Regions from separate parts of the Homo sapiens genome. Here region 2 is linked to region 1. A link means that fine-mapping ties the variant in region 1 to the expression of a gene that starts in the linked region. Tissue or cell type: testis. Region 1 holds a variant in brackets; the other region holds the start of a gene. All regions are shown on one strand. Distances are from middle to middle.

The links. PIP is the estimated chance that this variant, and not a neighbour inherited with it, causes the effect.
Region 2: MARCHF10 starts here. The variant in region 1 is fine-mapped to the expression of MARCHF10 in testis (GTEx, PIP 0.99).

The regions. Positions count from the first base shown.
Region 1 is chr17:62,746,194-62,754,378 of GRCh38, forward strand. The region is part of intron 4 of MARCHF10 (membrane associated ring-CH-type finger 10); the gene reads right to left. Among named protein-coding and RNA genes, the nearest start is that of MARCHF10-AS1, 44 kb to the left of the region's middle. RefSeq lists enhancers at 3,600-4,209, 4,210-4,818. The variant A/G (reference allele first, on the strand shown) is at 4,285.
Region 2 is chr17:62,804,389-62,812,534 of GRCh38, forward strand. It overlaps MARCHF10 (membrane associated ring-CH-type finger 10), which reads right to left and starts at 3,926. Exons shown (of 11, transcript NM_152598.4): 1 at 3,689-3,926. It overlaps MARCHF10-DT (MARCHF10 divergent transcript), which reads left to right and starts at 4,114. Exons shown (of 2, transcript NR_135634.1): 1 at 4,114-4,563. RefSeq lists a silencer at 3,815-3,964.

The DNA of each region.
Region 1 (8,185 bases):
CAGGAGGGCATGGCAGTGGGTCCTGCAGGCCAAGACAGAGAGGATCATGCCCCGCAGGGAACTTACTAGAAGAGGGAAGCTGCTGGTGGTGTCGGAGCAACTTGGGGCAAGTTGGTGGAGCCCAGAGAAGTTGTAGGTGTGAAAGGAGAGAGTGAAAGTTCTCTGGAAAATGAGAAGATAGTCTTGGGATGGCGTAGGATGTTGATTAGACATGATTTTGCTGATCAAAAAGGGGGTGAGAGGAGGAAGGTGAGAGAGTGAGAGACAGAAAGACAGAGAGAGAGAGAGGGATCAGGTGTTTTACACTAAGGGATCCATCACTGAGGGAAGGAGGGAAGCATTTTCCCACTACCAAAAGTTGCATTCCTTGAACATAGAAGCTTCTCCCTTATCACCTGAGACCTCAGACCCCCTCAGTTCTCAGAAGTCCTGCCTCCTGCTTTCCAACTCATGGAGAGAAGAGGAAGAAACAGAAGAAGGGCCAGGGAAGGGGCAGGCGTGGGGCTCAGGCCAAGTCTAGAAGGTCAGGACCTGGCCCCAAGGTCCTGAGGATAAGAATTTCACTTTGATTTCCAGCAGGAATCCCAGCAGAATATTCAAAGTTCCCACGCACCCCAGGCAGCAGAACTTCACACTGCCCAGAGGCCACTGAGCCCCGCCACTGCATTCACCTTCACAGGGAGGGATGCTTCTGCTCATGGGACCTTTCTTCCCCAGACTGCACCAGCCAGAAGGTCCTCCGAGGTCTGTTTCCGGTTTATTCCACCAAGTCGGCTCTGACTCTGCTTTGGAAAAAACCCTTACTTTCAGCGTTTTTAAAAAATGGCCTTTAGTGTTTAAATATTCTAAAATTGCTTAATGAGTATGTCTTTTCTCTCCAACTAGCCTGCACGCTCCTTAAGAATGAGGATCGTCTCTCAGCCAGTCTACACGTTGCCTCATACTGCTGTGCAGGACAAGTATTAATTGCCTTGTCGTGCAGGACAAATATTAGTATGATTTGTGAGGCTTGAGAAGATGCATTCAGCCCAACTACAGGGGAACTTCAAAACTAGAACACATTTTTTTGTTGTGCAGAACGCCCAAGATGGCTTAAGATAAAAGGTTATTTAATTTGTTTTCTTGTTCAAAAAAACTGCTTTCTTCAAAGCATCAGATCTCTTAAATGATTGCCAAAACCATTACCATGTGTCCTCTAATCAAGTTCTCAGCAAACTAAAATAATAAAGCTGAACAACTGGAGATTGTTGTACTAGGCCTGGCAGTGAAGAAATCGCTGCTATTAGTGTAGGCAGGATCCTCTGACCTTTGGCAACTTTAACCTCAGTTTCTGCAACTGTAAAATGGTCCATCTTGTTACTGTGAAGTTTAGCAAAAATGTACATAAATGGCCTAACTGGTTCATGCTAGGTGCTAATAATGGTAGCTGCTTCTTCTACTGTAAAGAATACTACCACTACTACTGAGAATAATAATGGGAAATCTGAAGTCATTCCCATGAGACAACTGAATTTGACCAGAAACTCATTGTTATGCAGACTTCACAGGTTGGCAATAACTTATTCAATAGCCTTCATTCCGGTGTAGTTCTTGTTGATTCTCTCCCTCAATCCTTCTTTTATAAAATCCAAAAGGCAAATAGCAACTCTTTATATTATGATTTGTTCAACAAATACCTGTGTGCCTTTGCTATGCTATAATTTGAGGGTTCACAAAGATGAACAAGATGTTGCCTCATGACCTTAAAGATTATTATAATCTAATTTGGCTGCACTGCTGACTTCTTCCCTGTGATACCCTTTTGGTTCCATGGAAAACAAAACTCTTGCAAAATATTTTCTCTTCTCTGTCTGTAAGTGCAGTCACAAATGAGGTGACCTAGATTGCACAGTTTGTGTGTACATGGGTTTAAGAGTTTCTAGGTCCAGGCACGGTGGCTCACGCCTGTAATCCCAGCACTTTAGGAGGCCAAGGTGGGTGGATCACGAGGTCAGGAGTTCAAGCCCAGCCTGGACAAAATAGTGAAACCCCGTCTCTACTAAAAATACAAAATATTAGTTGGGCATGGTGGCACGCACCTGTAATCCCAGCTACTACGGAGGCTGAGGCAGGAGAATCACTTGAACCTGGGAGGCGGAGGTTGCAGTGAGCCGAGATCACACCACTGCACTCCAGCCTCCAGGCCGGGCGACAGTGCAAGGCTCCATCTCAAAAACAAACAAACAAACAAACAAACAAACAAAAAAGAGATTCTAACATTCAGCCAGGCATGGTGGCTCATGTCTGTAATCCTAACACTTTGGGAGGCCGAGGCAGGAAGATCACTTGAGCCCAGGAGTTTGAGACCAGCCTGGGCAACAAAGTGAGACTCCTGTCTCTACAAAAAAAGAAATAAAAAATATTAGCTGGGTGTGCTGGCACATACCTGTGGTCCTGGCTACATGGGAGGCTGAGGCAAGAGGACCATTTGAGCCCCAGGAGGTCGAGGCTGCAGTGAGCTGTGTTTGCACCACTGCACTCCAGCCTGGGCAAGAGCACGACATTGTCTAGAAAAAGAGTTTCGAACCCTCAATTTGTATACCAAGTTCCCATCACTTCACTTGCATGAAAAGTGAATCAAATTTCAGACCTTTGGGGGCTAGGATGGGTCTTTACCATGTCCATGGATTCATAATCTGCAGGAAGACCAAGTCCTATTTACCCTGGACGATGAAATTACCTTCCTTTTCAGGTAGCAGGACAAGCCCTTTGCCTTACAGAAAAGGAAGGGGTTTGTGTTCAGGAGTTTCACTGCCAGGTAACTCAATATCCTGTTTATCAATGAATTTTGGGAAGACTTTGGTTTGCTTTGGACAACATACAGACCCCCTACTTCCAGGATCTGAGAAAGGTGATGCCTCCAGTTTTAAAGAAACCAAACAGCTGTTTAGATTAAAGGCATCTGCCTCTGTTCTCTTGACAATGTTGGGAAACTGTGATTGTCGACTGAAGACTTCTTAATTTGACCAGGAAAGGGAAAAAAAAGGTAGAAATCTTATATTTGTACAAGACCCTGACAAGTGAGAACCAAGTCCATTCAGCTGTTCACGTTCGGCTCTTCCCAACACTTGTCATCCACAGATAGTTCTTTATAGACAAAGTCAAAAAGGAAGCATAAAAGGGAAATACAGTTCCGGAACCCTTATCCCGCCCCACATTACTTTGACTGGGATCTCTGGTGCCTAGGAGGTGCCAAGATCCCAATGGAGAGACAACTCTTTGAAAAAAAAAGTGTGCTTTCTTTGGATCCTGGGAAGAATTACAGCTTAATCGCAGGAGCCAATGTTGCCTTGGGGTAATAGGCAGCTTTCTGTGCAGTCACAAATAATAGGTCGCGTCTATTTGCCTATTTGAGTGTGCGAGAAATGTGTGTTGTCTCATGTACCCAGAGGAGATCTTAATTAAAGCTTAATTATGTACCATAAATATGTTTTATTTTGGAACTCAGGGGTGGGATTTTTGATTTTAGGAAATGTGATGCCTAATAAGTAGGCAGGAAAGGGAATGTAAACATCGGCTGAGCCTTTTCATTTGTCCCTCCTCCGAGTGGTTCTGAATGGGTTTTGGTTCCAGTGTGTGCCTTCAGAACGGCCTGCCCCCGGTGCCACCGCTCAGGGCGGCCTCGGCGTGTGCACATTCACATAGCCAAGGGTATGATCAGACGCATTAGGAGAGCCTGTTTGGTTTCTGGGGGTGACATTGCACAGCGTGCCAGCTACAGGAGGTAAGAAATCAAATGAGTCTCCAGAGAGGATGGGATTTTATTGGTCGCTCGCTCCTTTGGCGCTAGAAGGTGCAGCCCCAGTGCAGTGGCCACGCTGTCCCATCTTCCTGCTCCCCCGAACACCACGCCGCCTGGTATTGTTCTTGGTGTGGCCTCTGGCCCCTCTCCTGTCCACCTGCCTTCCGGAAGCCCGAAGTCCCCTCTCCCCGACTGCGCTGTGCTGTGTGCCTTGCAAGAGTGACTTACCACATGAGGTAAATCCTACTGGGCCTTCTGGGGCCCTGAAGGCACAGCACAGGGGTCTCAGCCGGAGTGGGGCAGGAGATGGGGAAGTAGCACAGCACGGCGGGGGACTCGGGCACGGGGTCCGGGGAGGTGGAAGCGGTGCTTGTGAAGGAGGGAACGGTAACCAGAGGGAGAGGACAGTCAGGAGGTTCCTGGGCCACTGGGGAGGCAGGTGGCACTAGTGGCAGGAGGAGGCAGCAGTAATTGGTATTGGGCTGCAGGACAGGGGAGAAAGC[A/G]AAGACGGAGCAGTAAGGGGTGTATTCAACACAGAACAGGGGGTGCTTGCTGCTGCCACCTGCACAAAAGAAAAAGAGCAGTCAGGAAGCAGCACTGGCGGTGGGGGGAAGGACATAGAAACGTCTGCGAATGAATCCAAACTCAAAAATTGTTCTCCAATGTCATAGGAGCAGCAGGCCTGGCTCCTGCCCAGGAGGCACCTGGCCTAGATCTCAGCGTCACTGCGGAGTTAACCAAGGGAAGCGGCACCAGCATCACACCCTGTTCCAGCCAACAGTCTCCAGCGTCCCTGACAGATGTCGGGAAGTTCTTTTCCCCGTAAGATCCCGGAGAATGTCCTGAGGCTGCCGTGTGGAAGCTCTGGGGCCTTTCTCGTCTCCCACTGCCAGCTTAATGAGCTGTGCTGGTAGCAACAGATGGCGCCCCGCAGGGTCTCACTTGGGTAAGGCTCTCTCCCTCAATCCTCCAGCTGCCCCCGCTAGCAGGCTGTAGTCATGCCCTGATCTGGCCTTTCTGCTGCGGAGGGGAAGCTTGGGAAAAAGAGAAAGAAAGGAGAGAGATCCCGGCGGGATCATGCGAAGGGAGAAAAATCAAGCTGGGTGAAAAGCAGGTAAACAAGAGAGATGTCTCGTTGAAGCTGATGATCTGTTCACTAACCTCACGCTCAAACTGCTAACCTCGCTGGAGGCAGAATACGGGTGCCTGATGGAGTCATGAGTCAGAGCTACCCCCTCACGCCTGACAAATCTCAGCTTTGCCACTAACCAGCTGGGTCACCTTGAATCGACGGCTTACCTGCCCGGAACCTGTTTCCTCACCTGCAAAACGAGACGGGTGTTTTTTCTAGCCTTGCTCCTTCAAAGGTGGTTCACAGACCAGCCACATCGATGTCACCTGGGACTTCTTAGCAATGCAGGATCTCAGCCCACCCAGACCTTCTGAATCAGAATCTGTAGTTGCTCAAGAGCCCCAGGTGTTTCTCATGAATGTTAATGTTTGGAAAAGCAAGGATCTGAGACAGCTGCCCAAACCCTGGTGATGAGAATCACCTGTTGTTCTTGTTCAAAAATAGTTTCGCAGGCCCCTTTACTGGAGATTCTGATGCTGTGGGTCAGGGACAGGAAGCAGGAATTTTTATTTTTATGAAGAACCTCCCTGGTGATTTTTATTGTCAAAAAAGTTTGGGAGATGCTGCAGCTAAAATCAGTTCCAAGTCTAAAATCCACAGTTGTAGCCATCCAGTTGAAAACTATCACCTAAGGCTGGGCGTGGTGGCTCACGCCTGTAATCCCAGCACTTTGGGAGACCGAAGCAGGCGGATTACTTGAGGTCAGGAGTTCGATACCAGCCTGGCCAACAGGGAGAAACCCCATCTCTACTAAAAATACAAAATTAGCCGGGCATGGTGGCGCATGCCTGTAATCTCAGCTATTTGGGAGGCTGAGGCAGGAGAATCGCTTGAACCTGGGAGGCAGAGGTTTCAGTGAGCCGCGATCGGGCTATTGCACTCCAGCCTGGGTGACAGAGCAAGACTCCATCTCAAAAAAGAAAAAAAAAAAAAGAAGAAAAGAAAACCATTACCTATCGTGGAGGGGTCTCAGTCCTTAGTGCCATGCTACAGAGGATTCGAGTAAATATTATCCACTTCTTTCTTCCTAAATGGCCTCTGGAGTGGCTCCTATTTCTCGGGATCATTTTTCTCTCTCTAGCTGTCTTCACTCATTCTTCTCTTTACAGTTGTTATCTCCCAAAGTCCCCCCAACATCTCTCTTCTTACTCCATCCACTCAGGGGAGACATTCTTGCCATTTCAGCCACCTCTTACTCACTGCAGGCCCTTGGGTCCTACCAGCAAGTGCTCTGGGAGGAAGGGGAGTGCTCTGTTGGGCAGGAGACCTGGGTCCCCAGGTGCTTCCTGGCATTGCCACCTGGCTGCCCTGCCTGCAGCTCAAAGGCAACACCGCAAAAGGGGACCCACCCTCTCCTTGCTTCCTCAGCCTTGGCAGAGGCAACCTCCACTGACCTAGTTTCCTGGGCCAGATTCCTGAGTTCTCTTTGATTCCTCTTTCTTCCTTATCCCTACATCCAAGTCACCAAGTTCTGCCAGCTTTACTTCTTAAATGGCCCTCAAGCCCACTCCCTCTTCCTATTCCCTCTGCTTTTTTTTTTTTTAATAGAGATGGGGTCTTGCTATGTTGACCAGACTGGTCTTGAACTCCTGGCCTCAAGCAATCCTCCCATCTCAGCCTCCCAAAGTGCTAGGATTCCTTACAGGTGTGAACCACTGCATCTGGCCCTCTTCCTTTTGCTTTTGCTCCCGCTCAAGCCCTTCTCATTTCTCCCCCATCCCCTGCAACTGCTACTTGTCTGGTCTCTTGGCTGTGTCTGGCCACCCTCACACTCTCAGCTGGCCCTTCTCCATGCTGCAGTCAGAGTCAGCTTTTAAAAATCCAATCTGATTGCATCACTTTCCTATGCAGAGCCCTTCCAGGACTGATGCCCCGTCGCCTCCAGCATGACATTTAAGGCCCTTGGAGGCCTGATCCTTGCCTACCGGTGGGGCCTCAACTTTATATTTCCTAATTTGTAGCCTGACCCTAAACCAGAAACCAGAGCTTCTCTCTCTCTCTCTCTCTTTTTGAGATGGAGCCTTGCTCTGTCGCCCAGGCTGGAGTGTGGAGTGCAGTCACGTGATCTCAGCTCACTGCAACCTCTGCCTTCTGGGTTCAAGCGATTCTCCTGCCTCAGTCTCCCGAGTAGATGAGATTACAGGTGCGCACCACTACATCTGGCTAATTTTTGTATTTTTAGTAGAGATGGGGTTTCATCATGTTGACCAGGCTGGTCTTGAACTCCTGACCTCAAGTGATCCACCCACCTTAGCCTCCCAAAGCGCTGGGATTACAGGCGTGAGCCACCACGCCTGGCCCTAAACCACAACTTCTGAAACTCAAATGTACATAGGAATATCCCTGAGATCTTCTTCAATGCAGGTTCTGAGCCAGTCAGTCTGGACTGGGGCCTGAGGTTCTGCATTTCTAAGAAGCTCTCAGATGATGGTTTCTGCTACTTGCCTGGGGACACTTGGAGCACAAGGCCCTAGATTATCTGTAGCTCCTCGATATGTGTCTCTCCCTGTCTTCCTTGCTCCCTCTCCTCCGTTCCTTTGCACACTCAGTACCTGCTGCCAGGCACATCTTTCTTGCCCTCTTCACCTGGTTAAACCCCTGTCCTTCAGGATTTTCACTCCACCTGGCCCTGCCCACAAGCTCTTAGAACTTACCTTGGTCAGGGTGCGCCTTGCACTATCTGCCCTTATTGGAATCCTGCTCACCCACCAGGCTGGGAGCCCTGGAGGGCAGGCCCCGTGTGTTTTGTGTTCTGGTTCCCCATTACCCGGCAGGTAAATACGTATAAATGAAGTGCTGAATGAATGAGCAGTGGATGAGTACACCAGTTCGCCCTGGTATCATACACCCTGGGACGTGGGGGACAGTTGGATGTATTTGCTAACATCCCCATAGGTACTGGATAAACGGATGACTTCACTGATGATCAAATCGTTAAAATTTTTAATAATCAAATTATAACCACTTTTTTTGTTGTTGTTGTCGAGACATGGTTTCACTCTGTCGCCCAGGCTGGAGTGCAGTGACACAATCTCGGCTCACTGCAACCTCCTCCTCCCGGGTTCAAGCGATTCTCGTACCTCAGCTTCCCAAGTAGCTGGGATTACAGGCATATGCCACCACACTCAGCTAATTTTTGTATTTTTAGTAGAGACAGGGTTTCACCATGTTGGCCAGGCTGGTTTCTAACTCCCAACCTCAGGTGATCCGCTTGCCTTGGCCTCCCAGAGTGCTCGGATTACAGGCATGAGCCACTGCGCCCGGCCAAATTC
Region 2 (8,146 bases), 58 kb after region 1:
ACAAAACCTCGTGAAGAACACGAATATTTAGAGAACAAGCCGCTGAAGAGAAACTCTGCGGAAAAAAAAGAAAAAGCCAGAGAGGCAGGAAGAAACCAGGTGGGTGCCGTTTCAGAGATGCCCAGAAGAGAGGGTTTCAAAAAGGAGGCTATTAATAACCTTGGTGAGAGCATTCATTGGAGTGACGGGGCTGGGAGGGCTGCAGAAGGTTGCGTAAATGGGAGGCAAAGGCGTGGAGATCATGCTTTCAAGAAGTTTGGCTTTGACTGGCATGGCCCAAATTTATGGCCAAGATATCTAAGCTCACAAAGGGATAAAATGGCACTGTTAATAACGACCCCTCATCTATGGGGTCATCAAAGCCCCCACACTATTCCTGTTTGTTGTCTACTGAAGCTCTTTCATTTATTTCTACACACACACACACACACATATTTTTTACAACTGCTGTGTGTGACAAGGGCTGCTAGGCTCTGGGGAAACATCAGGATGGGACAGGCGACATCTCTACCTTCAGGTGTATACGTTCTGCGGCATTCCCTCGCTCCTCCTGTTTATTCAGTTGTGCAGATATTGGCAGAGTCAGGCCGCCCCGGACTCATGGTGACCCAGCGTCTGGTCTGGTAGTTATGAAATCTCACATGGTTTATCATCTGGCCCTGAACAATGGGGAAAACTTGTGCTCGTCTCTTGGGGGCTATTTTCTCTGGAGTATGGAAAGTTGGTCTTTTGACAGTCAGAATCTGAAACTACAATCCAATGTGTATTTCCAGTCTACACACAAAACATACATTTTGTCTCTAAGCATTTTAATAATCACTTATGGGACTATGTTTTAAAAGATCACTTTTAGCTTTTCATCTGAATGTGTACCTGCATAGAATGAAGTTACCTTTGCACTCTTTTCAGAAAACGATGGTGTTAAAACAGGCAGAAGGATAAGCTCCTGCTGCTACTGTGGGAAAGAGAAGCCTGTCTGAATCTTATTCAGGCAGAGACCATAAAGACTCATAATAAAAATATGTTAATGGTCACTAAAGGGGAGCATCCCAGAGTCCACTTGGATGATACATTTTGGTTGCCAAAGTTAATATAGAAAGCCGGTTAATCTATCACGGCTTTAGAGCAGGGTTAATTTAAGGAGGCTTCTAAGTCAAGAGGCATGAAATAACTTTGTCTAAATAGGAAGTAGCACCCTTTGAATTACTTGCTAAGTTACCTCTGACTTCACAATCACCTACCAAATAAAGGACTTTAAAATGCCTGTAATCCCAGCACTTACAGAGGCCAAGGCAGGTGGATCACTTGAGGTCAGGAGTTCGAGATCGGCCTGGCCAACGTGGCAAAACCCCATCTTTACTAAAAATACAAAAATTTGCTGGGCGTGGTGGTGCACTCCTGTAGTCCCAGCTACTTGGGAGGCTGAGACAGAAGAATCACTTGAACCTGGAAGGCGGAGGTTGCAGTGAGCCAAGATCGCACCACTGCACTCCAGAGAGAGACTCCATCCCCTCAAAAATAAAAAAAAATAATAATAATAATAATAAAATAATAAAAATAAAATTGCCTACAAAAGTCTCTCTTCCTTCCCATAAACTCTCTATTACATTGTATTTTACAATATTTAGAAACATCGTGGTGCCACATGTAATTTTTTATTTAAATACATCAAGTCTTCATGAGATTAAACAAATATTACGGGAACCAAGAAAACGGTATTAGTGTCAGACCAAGAAGATGGTGGGTTACCTCAGTATAAGCAAACATTCTCTGTGTTTGCTTGAAGTTCATACTGCACTCAGTCAGTTTGAAAAACTGACCAGGATGAACAAGAAACAGAAATAACAGTATGGAAATAAAACTACATGAGATAATGCTTAATTCATGGATCTCAGCTTTGTGGGCCTACTCAACCAGATGGCCACTTGAAGCCAAGAATTTTTCCCCAGCAAACACAGAGGGTTGGGGTGGGGGTGATAATAAAATGTGAGCAAGGCGCATGTTTCTAAAATAGCACTCTGTATTCTCTTCTATCGCTCACCTTTGAACTGCTTCTTAATTTAAAACCCACTCATGGTTATGCACACTTCTGTTTTAAGTCTTTCTGGTGATAATGTCTTGTGCCAAATCTGTGCTTTAGAAATCAACATAAGAAGCCATATTAAGTAGGGAGAGAGAAAGGAGGAGGGAGTTGGAGGCAGGTGGAGAAGGAAGGAGGGGGTCCTGCCTTGCTGAAAGCAAGAGCGAGTAATTCTTCTTGGCCTCAAAATTCTACATATCTGTGAAATTTTAATGGGGGAATATTCTAAGAACTTTGTGACATACACGTTCTTCTCTAGTGTAATTTTCCAGTGAATTCCAACCAAGTTTTCCTGACTGAGGGGAACAGAATCTGATTGCAGAATGTTTTTCAGTGCTCTAAAAGTCATGCATACGTACCATCCCTCTGTTTTATGACCACATTTGTCAAAAGAACTGATTTGAAGGAGCCTGTTCTTAATAACAATCAAAGTCTTATTGGTTTCTTACTATGTTCTCATAAGAGAAAGACATCACTAAAGTTAATATGCTGTTAAGCAATAAAGGAAATGTAAACAATCTAACCTCCTCCTTAGACGGAAGGTTGCTTTGAAATAAAATCTAAATGGCTATTGTTAATACCGGACAATCAGGCTCGAAAATTACTCCCTTTCCACAATTAGGTGATTGGAGAAGGATTTCAGGAGACCTTATTCAACCTTTTCCCCAATTGATTAATTTGTAATGTCAGACATTATAGGATTTGTTTAAATCTTAGCTCTAAAAAAAACTTTGCATTTTAAAGTCTTAGCTTATAAACATGTCTTGAGTATAAGCAACAAAGTTTACGATTTGGGCCCAATTTAAGAATACTGTGACTGCAGAGAAAAAGGGGGAATTGGTTGGGAAAGGTAAGGAGATCTTTCAACTCTTCCAGCCAATTTGGCTTAAGAGTTGGGGGCGGGGTGGAGGGTGGGGAACAGACTTGTGTTTGGCGGTGACTCTTCATTTTACTGTGAAACTAGGAGAGATAGGTGGTCACATTTCGACCATCAAGCCCAGAAGAGAGGAGAAACTCAACGTGTAATTGGGAAACTCTGGGGGAGGAAACGTCACAGGTTTGACAAGCAATTCAGTGCCATCATTAATAACAATATCCAGCCAGAGAAACATAACGAGACCCCTTCTTTACAAATAATTTAAAACATTAGCCAGACATGGTGTTGGCCTGTGGTCCCAGCTACCACCGGGAGGCTGAGGCGGGAGGATCGCTTGAGCCTGGGAGGTCGAGGCTGCAGTGAGCCCTGACTGCACCGCTGCACTCCAACCTGGGAGACAGAGCGAGACTCCTTCTCAAAAATAAACAAAATCAATATCGACCATTTCGCATTCAGAAGCCCAGTGGGCCATGGTCTGTGTATACCTTTTCTGACCAGTGGCGTCTGCAGGAAAGAATGTGGGTGCCAGTGAGCAAAGGTTCACGGTCTCCCCCAAACCTGTCCCTCTGAGACAGAAAAATGCTGGGGCTGGGGTCAGCCGAGGGGAGGGGACGGCCAGGCCACCGGATGTCAGGCCCGGTTTCCCTCCAGAATCTTGTAAGTCGAAAGGGAAGGTTGTCCCCCATCCTGGGAGAACTGGAGCGGAGCGGCGGGGGCGAGGGGGCCGTTACCTGTGGGTCTGCCCTTCCTCCCCTGCCGGGGCTACAGGGGTCGAGGGGCTGGGCGGGCGGGCCGGTCCAGGGCGCAGGAGCCGCCCATTAATTGCGCGGGGACGGCCCTGAGCTCCTCTTCCTCCTCCTCTTTTTGCTTCTTCACTCCCTACACCTGCCCCTCTTCCTCCTCCTTCCCCGAGGCTGCTTTCCGCGGCGCCGGCCGGCCTTGCCTGGGGCGGAGGCGGTGGGGGCGGCTACCGGGCGTCCTCCGGTTTCCCTAGCAACCGCGCCTCCCCGCCCCCGCGCGACCAGGTGCAGCCGCCGAGAGCACGGGGCGGGGCGGGGCGGGGCTGTGGCCCCGGGGTCCCAAGCCAGTCGTGGGCGCCCGCCGGTTGCCGTGGGAACGAGGCGGGCTGCAGTCGGGGAGTCAGAGCCACGCTGGTGGGCAGAGAAGAGATGCCCAAGGAGGAGGCGGTTGGCTTTGTCTGGGTGCCCAAGCCCAGACCCAGATATCCAGGCCTCTGCTCCCTTCCCTGAAAGGGTGCTGTGCTTCATAAAAAATGAGATTAGAAAACGAGAGAGGAAAATATTTTTAATGGAATCAGGGAATGTGAAAAGCGGTACATGCGAAGAGGAAAAGATACTGCAGTCCTGGAGTTCGACCTCTGCAGAGGACATCTGGAATGCTCTGGTCCAACACGAAAAAGAAGAAATAAGCGATGAAGCCAGGCACCCAGTCAGTGGCAGAACCGACATTAGAGCCCAGGCCTCTTCGTAATCAGTCGTCTTCACCCCCTTTCCAAGGAGAGAGGTGCTTAGAGGCCTAGACCAGGCCCTACAGCTTTGGAGCCAGGGCACCAGAACCGCTACTACCCTCACCTTCTCTGTGCCAGGTTGATTTCTTTCTTTTTCTTTTCTTTTCTTTTCTTTTTTTTCTTTCTTTCTTTTTTTTTTTTTTAGACAGAGTCTTGCTCTGTAGCTCAGGCTGGACAGTGCAGTGGCACGATCTTGGCTCACTGCAACCTCTGCCTCCGGGGCTCAAGCGATTTTCATGCTTCAGCCGTCCGAGTAGCTGGGATTACAGGCATGCGCCACCACACCCGGCTAGTTTTTGTATTTTTTTTTTTTTTTTAAGTAGAGACGGGGTTTCTCCATGTTGGCCAGGCTGGTCTCGAACTCCTGACCTCAAGTGATCCGCCCGCCTGGGCCTCCGAAAGTGCTGGGATTACAGGCATGAGCCACCTTGCCCGGCTTTGCCGGGTTGATGTCTGTCTGTGGTTCTCATGGGCAAAGATGACTCCCCTATTTACTTTGCATATTTAGGCTCTCAACTTGTCAACTGATGTCAAGTTAGGGTATTTTTGATTGAGTGGAGAGTAAGGTAAAGGAAGAATAGAAATTCTTGGAACTTTCATCAGTGCCCGGAATCCCTAGGTGTCTGTGGTTTGACCGTCTTCTCAACACCTCCCCTTCCCCCCATTCAGTTGGTGCCAAGTCCTTGGCAGCGTCACATTCTTCTTTCTATTCTTATCACTCTAGTTTTGGGCTCCATGACCTAGTTTTGGGCTCCATGGATTATTCTGAGGGCCTCCTGGTCACACCCTGGGCGCCTGTCCTCCACACCCTATCTTCACCATTTCCCCCATCCTATAAGCAGCCTACATCTAATGTTGCTGGCCCCCTGCTTAAAAAGCCCTGAAAGGTTCCTCACCGCCTGTGGAATGAAGTCCAAACTCGTCACTATGACTTTCCCTGTGCCCTCCCCCACAGTTTCCTTTCTTGGTTTTTCCCCTTCATCACTTCTTCACTCATACTTCAGCCAGATGGGACTATGTGTTACACACTGAACATTTTTCCTTGCCTTCACACCAGCTTCAAAGACATATCATGAGCTGGGCAGAGTCTAGACAAATGTACTTAGCTGAAGTCTTTCCACTGGGCACTTTCCCATCTGAACTTCGCTGGTCCTCCAGCAGACCCTAGGATCTTTTCATCTCTAGTAGCCCAGTCCATATTCTGTTCTTGTTCTCAGCTGATTATCAAGTATTCCTTAGTAAAGCATTAACTGATAATTGAAGTATTAACTGATAAGGATGTAACCTAAGAACTTGCCTCATGGTTTTTGCCTTTCAAAAGGATATGCTTTGGGCCAGGCATGGTGGCTCACGCTTGTAATCCCAGCACTTTGGGAGGCCGAGGCAGGGGGATCACCTGAGGTCAGGAGTTTTGAGACCAGCCTGGCCAACATGGTGAAACCCCATCTCAACTAGAAATACAAAAATTAGCCAGGTGTGCTGGCAGCCACCTGTAAACCCAGCTACTCAGGAAGCTGAGGCAGGAGAATTGCTTGAACCCAGGAGGCGGAGGTTGCACTCCAGCCTGGGCGACAAGAAACTCTGTCTCAAAAAAAAAAAAAAAAGTTTGGATGCGCACACTGGGTTGAAACTATAATAGTGAAATGATAGGTAGGGAGCTTGTTCTGTTGGCGCGAGGACCCACCTCAAATAAAAATAACAGAGGAGGAAGTTGAAGCCCAGGTTCTCACCTTGTTGAAGGTAAGGGACATGACCAGAACATATGGTAAGTACCAGAACCAGGGTTCAAAAACAGGGCTTTCCATCTCCAGTAACTTGATGTTGCCCACTACTAAGAAAAGCACCTTGGTACTTCCTGTACCCAGACAAGATCTATTAAAATAATACTATCTATCTCAAAAGCTTGCTGTGGGAATTAAATGAGAGAGGACAAGCAAAGCATTTCACATCATGCTTGGCACATAGCACTCAATAATTGGTAGCTTTGCTTTATAAGGCATAACTTAAGATTTTATTGCATGTGAATGTTAACCGTAAATATTTAAAGATTTTTATTTATTTTTAATTTTTTAATTTTTTTTTTTTTTGAGCCAGAGTCTGTCACCCAGGCTGGAGTGTTATAGCGCGATCTTGGCTCACTGTAACTGCCGCATCCCAGGTTCAAGCGATTCTCCTGCCTCAGCCTCCTGAGTAGCTGGGACTACAAGCACGTGCCACCATGCCCAGCTAATTTTTGTATTTTTAGTAGATACAGAGTTTTGCCAGGTTGACCAGGCCAGTCTCAAACTCCTGACATCAGGTGATCCACCCTCTTCGGCCCCCACAAAGTGCTGGGATTATAGGTGTGAGCCACTGTGCCCAGCCTAAAGATTTTTAAATAACAAGGTCTGGAGAAGTCACTTCATATCTCAGCTTTAAACTCTTCCACATGTCAAGTGTTCTTGAAAATTAAGTTATATGAAAAAATCATGGTGCCTTTGAAAGAGGGTAATAGTGCCCAAGGTCAGCTCATAAAAAGCTATAGAGCAACTCCAACTTTAGTGTTTAATGAGTAAATTTAAGCTAGGCATGTAAATTACAAATAAGATTAGTTCTGGCATTAAAAAGCAAAGTCCTTAGGAGGAGAAATATTAAAATGAAGAAGAAAAACTTCTCCTGGTTGGGGAAAGGATCCTACTCTTCATTATTTCCTGCACAATGTTCCTGGTAGAGATGAATAAGTAAACAAAAAAACTTAAGACTTAAGTGGATGGTAGATTCTAATGCTCCCTCCTGCTGATCTAACAAAATACCTTAGACTAGCTAATTTGTAAACAACAGAAGTGTATTGCTTACAGTTCTGGAGGCTGGGAAGTCCAAGATCAGGTCATCTGCAGATTTGGTGTCTGGTGAGGGCTCACTGTGTTTTGTATATAGCATCTTCCCTTTGCATCCTCATATGGTGGAAGGGACAAACTCCCTCAAGCCTCTTTTATAAGGGCCCTAATACCATTCATCATGGTGAAGTCCTCATGACCTAGTCACCTCCCAAATGGCCCGCCTCTTAATACCACTACAATGGGAATTAAGAGTCAACATGAATTTTGGAAGGACCTAAGCATTCAGACCATAGCAAGCATGAAAAAGTTCTTTAATTATATCTAAGAGTTCTGCAAAGAACAACTTCAAGTATAAAGTTTCAAAAGTAGACTGTGTATTAAGTTTCAGAAATAACACTTTTGAGGGAAATATTTAATGCAAAGAGTAAGCTGTGCAGAGGAATAGGCATACATTCTAAGTCTCCCAAGGTTTTTGAGACAGGGATATCCAACAGCTTCATGGACACCTGGCCCAGCTACTCACTTGAGCTGGAGCACCCCACCCTCTATCTGCCTAATATTTTCTCTTCCTAAGAGAGAGAGAGAGTCTAACTAAAAGAGTCTCTTTGTAACTAACTATTCAGAAGCTCTCCTATTGGGCATAGAGTTTTATGCCAAGTGACTTCAGAAGCAGATGGCCTCCCTCAGATACAACTTAAACTTGGTCATTTTTGCCTTGGTCATGGGATCTCGCCATGACTAATGGGTTCCTGTTCTCATCATTGAGGCCAGTGTGGTGTTGCCTTCATCCATGCACACAGCATGAACTGCGGCAGTTTGTTTGCAAAAAGAATCTCTAGGAA